Homo sapiens: one gene and its partner. The protein of the gene in region 1 purifies or fractionates together with the protein of each later gene. This does not show direct contact. Each region holds a gene or a part of one and is shown on either strand. Other genes may lie near its edges.

What was found. The genes of interacting proteins can lie anywhere in the genome.
Region 2: the proteins of SULT1C4 (region 1) and RPAP1 purify together in Homo sapiens (affinity purification with mass spectrometry; one large-scale study listed by BioGRID and IntAct). This does not show direct contact.

What each region holds. Positions count from the first base shown.
Region 1 is NC_000002.12:108,384,389-108,388,042, reverse strand, and holds part of SULT1C4 (sulfotransferase 1C4), read right to left. Parts: intron 1,852-3,654; coding exon 1,671-1,851; intron 724-1,670; coding exon 611-723; 3' UTR 1-610. UniProt on the Homo sapiens protein: Sulfotransferase that utilizes 3'-phospho-5'-adenylyl sulfate (PAPS) as sulfonate donor to catalyze the sulfate conjugation of phenolic compounds.
Region 2 is NC_000015.10:41,537,629-41,541,282, forward strand, and holds part of RPAP1 (RNA polymerase II-associated protein 1), read right to left. Parts: intron 1-3,654. UniProt on the Homo sapiens protein: Forms an interface between the RNA polymerase II enzyme and chaperone/scaffolding protein, suggesting that it is required to connect RNA polymerase II to regulators of protein complex formation.

The DNA.
Region 1 (3,654 bases):
GATCATGGGGTCAGGAGATCGAGAACATCCTGGCTAACACGGTGAAACCTCGTCTCTACTAAGAATACAAAAAAAAAAATTAGCCGGGAGTGGTGGTGGGCGCCCATAGTCCCAGCTACTCGGGAGGCTGAGGCAGGGGAATAGCGTGAACCCAGGAAGCAGAGCTTGCAGTGAGCCGAGATCGTGCCACTGCACTCCAGCCTGGGCGACAGAGCGAGACTCCGTCTCAAAAAAAAAAAAAAAAAAATTAACTTGAACCAAAACTTAATCTGAAAATGTTAGTGTATTATCATGTGAGGACTGAAGCATTTCCAATATGTTAATAAGCACATGATTGTAGAAAATGTAAATATGATGATAATTGGCAATGATACCAGGATTGTACCTAGTGATTTATTGAGCTTCCCTCTCTCCATGTCGCCACCCTGCTGCCTGTCACCACCTTGCCTCCAGCCTTTTAAAATAATTTTTTAGTAGAGTGAATAAGAGCAAACACAGTAAACTATTCTGATAACTGGAATCTGATATCATTTGTTATGAGAATTAAACTTTCATTATTACCCAAATATACTGGGTAATAAACTAAAACATTTTCAGTTTTTCTTCCTTACTAGAACTGGAAGTGGAAAGTTAGTCTGGTATCAGTCATTTTCTTCTTGTAATCTTCATCAAATCTCTCATTCTGAGCCACGGTGAAGTGTTTCTTCCAGTCTCCCACTGCCCCTGAAATACAGTTATGTGGGAGAGGTTCAGTAGCTGTTGGAAGAGTCTGTGCTTCCCTATTCTCCTGTTTCTGTATGATGATTTCTATGCCATGTTCTAGGAAGGGCAGTATTGGACAAAACGTTTCTCTTGCTATCCTGTCACTTCCTTATCCTGAAGAGAAGACAACTTTCTTGTCTGATCTGTGAGACAAGGAGAGTCTCTTGCCACCTGGTTGCATTAGTGGGTGGGCGAGACCGCCATGTTACAATAGCAGGCCTGAAGGGCTTTCTTGTCTTTCCCTGTGCCCTGTTGCACATTGAAGCATGGTGGGTGCTCATGACTGTAGCTCCCATGCTGTAAACTGACCAAGAAGGGCCTATTTCTGGGAGGCCCAAGGTACCATTTGAAGAAGAAAAAATAAGACCTCCCCCCACAAATTCTCTAATTGTAATCCCTGTTACCTTTCCCAGTTTCGTTTTTCTTAATGTTATCTATCTATATATTCTTTATTTTGCTTATCACTAGAATATAATTTCCACGCAGGCATGAATTTTTGTGTTTTGTTCACTGCTGCAAACAGTGGCTAGAACAGTGCCTGGCACATAGAAGCCCCTCAGTAAGTACCTTTGAATGACTGAATCTGATAGCATAGAACTGTCTATAAAATGGATTCTTTGCCCTATCTGACTTAATTCTATATATTTTCATGTTATTAGCCAGAACTCTTAAGGGAAAGTGGGGATAAGTGGTTGGATTTGGACATCAAATCTTACTCTCTTAATCTTAATAATAATTGGCTAATTAAACGCGATTTTCATTTTATCAGTGGCTTCTTAAATACTTCTTTTCCCCAAATCATTTATTACAGATATTATTTTTCCTAGACACAGGAAAGAAAACTCCTCAAATGCTTTAAAATATTTGACAGTTCTTTTAAGATTATAATGAAAATAAACTATAAAAACCTTTTCTCATGAATGGAGAAATGGAGTGGTCCATGATTTCAGCAGGAATCGATGAATAGTTTGCCATTGGATTCTGTTTCATGACATCAAACGAAGTGTAATGGACAATTTTATCTAGAACTTTGTCATCTAATTTCTTCCCAATAAATTCTGCCAGCTTCTGAATTTCATGCTTTGGGTTCTATGATCAGAGTCAAAAGAAAAGTAATGATTTAATAGAATTAGTTTAAAAAGAATATTATGATGGATTAATGACAGTAACCGGTAACATATTACGAGCTAAAATAAAAAACAAATCTTAACAAATGCTCAAGTGACTCATTTTAACGTGATGACCCATATTGTTCTTTTTTTAGTAATTGGAATCACTAATAATTTTTTCCCCTTAATATGTAATCAACTGGGTAGGGTTAGTGAAACATTCACCAGACAATGACATACAGTGCCTAGTGAATGGTTCACTAAGGGAATGTGTCAGGGTTATGTCCACAAGCCCTGCTCAAGGCATTTCAGAAGCACAGGGGCAGAAGATTTAAGACCTGACACAGAGGAAGCTACATCCTGTTTCTGACATTGACAGAAATGTCCCCAGACTGCAGTGATGGCAGGAGGAGAGGAGAGAAGTTTTTTTTTTGCATGCCTCAAGAGGCACTCATGGCTAGTGACTCTGGTACCAGACCACCAAGTCAAGTGGAACTGAGAGGAGCTGAGTTCCAGTGTAGCTACTGATTTCGCATCAAAGGGACATACAACCTTGTGACATCACTGTGGCTGTGGGACGCCTCCATCTCTAGGAGCAGAGGGCGGGTGGGGAAGGAAAGTGGAAGCGCTTACCCTGACCACTGTGTCTATAGTGGGCTTCTGCTTTAAAAGCTTGTATGTCAAAAATGTTTCATTTAATTGACCTCACACAGGCTAGGAATCAGAGAGTGCTGAGAATTGTGAGCTTTGTGGGAACTACAGTGAGGGGACATTCAAGAACAAGATCACAGCAATATTTTTAAAAGTTTTAGGGACTCTGAGGTTAGATTACCTATTTCGATAAAGTTTCTTCCTGGCATGCATAATACGCTAGGGTCTACCTAAACAAAAGAGCCCCATTCCCAGCGACATATCCTTTCTCTGACATGGCTATGATACATGCTGTAGGGAAACATCATCTGCCTGGAGTCTTCGTATGGTGGCACAACACTTTTGTACCAAGTAAAAACAAAGTAAACACAAAGAAGGGAATTTTATACTGATAACCTCATAGGTTGTTCTGCTGGTTCTTTGATCATGCTTCTGAGAATCCTAGAGCTATAACAATTATTTTAAAAACCACATGAAAATAGTCTGTGTTTTCCACTCCTTTGATATTTTGTAGAACTCACTCATATCACAAGGCCCAGCAGTGATTGAACCTTAGAGAAGTGCATCTAAATGGTGATGTGTGCTTGAATCTCCTGGGAATTTTATAAAACTCCAGACTTAGCAGGCCTACAGCAGGCTCCAGTAGCTCATGCAACTAGTCTGTGAAGCACCTGTTGAGTATCAAGGCTTTCAACGACCAATTCAAGAACAGACACTGTAATTCTGTATAGATCTCTGTATTTAGTGGGGTCACAGAAAATAGCTGAGTAGATGATTATTTACAATAAACATCCACTGATATTATCTCATTTAGTCCTCAAATAAATCTTGAATGGGTAAATATTATTATCTTCATTTTTACATTTAAGAAAACTAATTTCCCAAGATGTTAAGTGTCTTTACCAAGAATTGACAGAACTTGATTTCAATAATTTTGAATCTAAATCATTAGTATTTTCCATTGCACCACTTCTTAAAGTTTCTTAAAGCTATTGGCTGGGCGTGGTGGCTCACGCCTGTAATCCCAGCACTTTGGGAGGCCGAGGCGGGCAGATCACGAGGTCAGGAGATTGAGACCTGGCTAACACGGTGAAACCCCGTCTCTAGTAAAAAATACAAAAAATTAGCCGGG
Region 2 (3,654 bases), on another chromosome or scaffold:
CCCAGCATTTTGTAAGGCCGAGGAGGGTGGGTCACCTGAGGCCAGGAGTTCAAGACCAGCCTGGCCAACATGGTGAAACCCCATCTCTACTAAAAATACAAAAAATTAGCTGGGCATTGTGGTGGGCGCCTGTAATCCCAGCTACCTGGGAGGCTGAGACAGGAGAATCGCTTGAACCTGGGAGATGGAGGTTGCTGTGAGCCGAGATTGCACCATTGCACTCCAGCCTGGGCAACAAGAGTAAAACTCCGTCTCAAAAAAAAAAAAAAAAATTGTATGTCTATGCACTAGCAAAGAACATGCAGAAAATGGAATTAAGAAAACAATTGCATTGGCCGGATGCGGTGGCTCACGCCTGTAATCCCAGCACTTTGGGAGGCCAAGGCGTGTGGATTATGAGGTCAGGAGATCAAGACCATCCTGGTTAACACGGTGAAACCCCGTCTCTACTAAAAATATAAAAAACTAGCCGGGCGTGGTGGCGGGCACCTGTATTCCCAGCTACTCGGGAGGCTGAGGCAGGAGAATGGCGTGAACCCGGGAGGCGGAGCTTGCAGTGATCTGAGATGGAGCCACTGCACTCCAGCTTGGGCGACAGAGTGAGACTCTGTCAAAAAAACAAAACAAAACAAAACAAAAAACAGACAGGATCTCACTCTGTCACCTAGGTTGGAGTGCAGTCTGCTATCATAGCTTACTACAGCCTCAAACTCCTGGGCTTGGGTGATCCTCCCACTTGACACAGAAAGTTAATTTAATTGCCCCAAATCCACAGTAAATGTCAGAAACAGAATCTCAAGTTAGGCACTCAAGCTGCAGAATGTATGCACTTCTCTGTCTGCTCAACCTTGACAATGATAAGTGATCAGAGGCTTAGAGGATAAAAAAGGAAAGAAAAAACAAAAAAAATCAACAAACAGGTCAGCAATCAAATGTTTTGTATCATGATAAAATATGCATATTTCTATTTTTCTCTATATACTGTAAATTTATGTACTTTTTAAACTTGTGATTTGTTATAATGTTAGATTTACAGATTTATATAGATAGTATGAACAGTTTCCATATGTAGTCTTCACCCAGTTTCTCCAAAGGTTAAGACTTTACGTAACCATGGCACAAAGGCAAAAAAGAAATTAACATAGAGACCTTACATTTATTTGTCAACAAAAAGGAATGAAGTTCCAATGCACAAACATTGAAAACATTATACTAAGTGAAAGAAGCTATATGACTCAGAAACATTTTATTTAGTGAAAAGAAAGAAAGAAGCTAGCCAAAAAGGACCTCATATTGTATGATTCTGTTCATATGGAATGTCCAAAATAGGCAAATCCATAGAGACAGAAAGTAGATTAGTAGTTGCCAGGGGCTAGGAGAGCTGGAGGGAAATGGGAATTGACAGCTAATGGGTATGGAGCGTCTTTTTGGAGTAATGAAAATGTTCAACCTTGTGAATATACTAAAAGCCATGAATTGTAAACTTTATTAATTTATTGTGACAGAGTCTGGCTCTGTCACCCAGGCTGGAGTGCAGTAGCGTGATCTTGGCTCACTGCAACCTCTACCTCCTGGGCTTAAGCCGTCCTCCCACCTCAGTCTCCCAAAAAGCTAGGACTACAGATGCACCACCACACTCAGCTAATTTTTGTTTTTTTTTTTGTTTTTTGTTTTTTGTTTTTTGAGACGGAGTTTTGCTCTTGTTGCCCAGGCTGGCGTGCAATGGCGCGATCTCGGCTCACTGCAACCTCTGACTCCTAGGTTCAAGTGATTCTCCTGCCTCAGCCTCCTGAGTAGCTGGGATTACAGGCGCCCACCACCATGCCTGGCTAATTTTTTGTAGTTTTTCAGTAGAGACAGGGTTTCACCATGTTGGTCAGGCTGATCTCGAACTCCTGACCTCATGATCCACCTGCCTTGGCCTCCCAAAGTGCTGGGATTACAGGCGTGAGCCACCGTGCCCCACAATTTTTGTGTTTTTTACAGAGACAGGATTTCACCATGTTGTACAGGCTGGTCTCGATCTCCTGGGCTCAAGAAATCTGCCCACCTTGGGCTCCCAAAGTACTGGGATTACAGGCCTGAGCTACTGCACCTGGCCTGTAAACTTTTAAAATGATGAATTCTGGCCAGGCTCGGTGGCTCACATCAGTAATCCCAGCACTTTGGGAGGCTGAGACAGGTGGCTCACGAGGTCAGGAGTTCAAACCAGCCTGACCAACATGGTGAAGTCTCTACTAAAAATACAAAAAAAATTAGCCGGGTGTGGTGGCAGGTGCCTGTAATCCTAGCTACTCAGGAGGCTGAGGCAGAAGAATCACTTGAACCTGGGAGGCGGAGGCTGCAGTGAGCCAAGATCGTACCACTGCACTCCAGCCTGGGCGACAGAGTGAGACTCCGTCTCAAAAAAATAATAATAATAAAATAAAATGATGACTTCTGTGGTATATAAACTATAAATCAATTATAAAACAAAAAACGCTGGGCTGGCCAAAGATATCTGCAAGCTGGCTGGCTAGTTTTGGAACCCCTGAGCTAGATGCTGATAATAATAAAAATATTGTTATATCTAACACTTATTGAGCACTTAGTATGCACCACATACTGTTCTCTAAGCACTTTTTCCATATTCATTCATTTAATCCTCATAACAGCCTAGGAGGTAGGTTACTACTATTTTTTTTTTTTTTGAGATGGAGTTTCACTCTTGTTGCCCAGGCTGGAGTGCAATGGCACGATCTCGGCTCACTGCAACCTCCGCCTCCCAGGTTCAAGCGATTCTCCTGCCTCAGTCTCCCTAGTAGCTGGGATTATAGGCATGTGCCACCACGCCCAGCTAATTTTGTATTTTTAGTAGAGACTGGGTTTCTCCATGTTGGTCAGGCTGGTCTCGAACTCCCGACCTCAGGTGATCTGCCCGCCTCTGCCTCCCAAAGTGCTGGGATTACAGGCGTGAGCCACTGCAACGGGCCAGTTACTACTATTATTCAAATTTTACAGCTGAGAAAAGAATAGTGCTGAGAAGTTAAGTATTTGCTCAAGGTCTCAGTGTAAGTGTGTGCTAGGATTAGGATTCAATCCCAGTCAGTCCATGCTCTTACCCACTATGTTCTACTGCCTACTGCTGTGTGGTGCCTGGGTGTCCTGGAAGTCTGGAATAGTGAGGCAGATGGGGAAGAACTATAAAGAATCTCCTGAAGAGCAAAGGCTGCAACTACACTAAGGTTTCTCAATAGGGACTATTGATCTTTATAGCTGGGTAATTCTTTGCTGTGGGAAGCTGTCCTGCGCACTGTAGGATGTTTAGCGGCATTCCTGGCTTTTACCCACTAGACGTCATCATCAAACCTCCTCCCCTAGTTGTGACAAGTAAAAATGTCTGCAGACATTGCCAAATGTCACCTCAGAAAAAAATCACCCCCAGTTGAAAACCACTGAACCAGACCTTGAAGGATAAGATAGGCCTCCAGCCAGAAGGGAGAGCTGGGCAAAGGTATAGAAGCAGGGAATAGGGCCGGGCGCAGTGGCTCACACCTGTAATCCCAGCACTTTGAGGCTGAGGTGGGTGGATCATCTGAGGTCAGGAGTTCAAGACCAGCTTGGCCAACATGGTGAAACCCCATCTCTACTAAAAATACAAAAAAATTAGGCAGG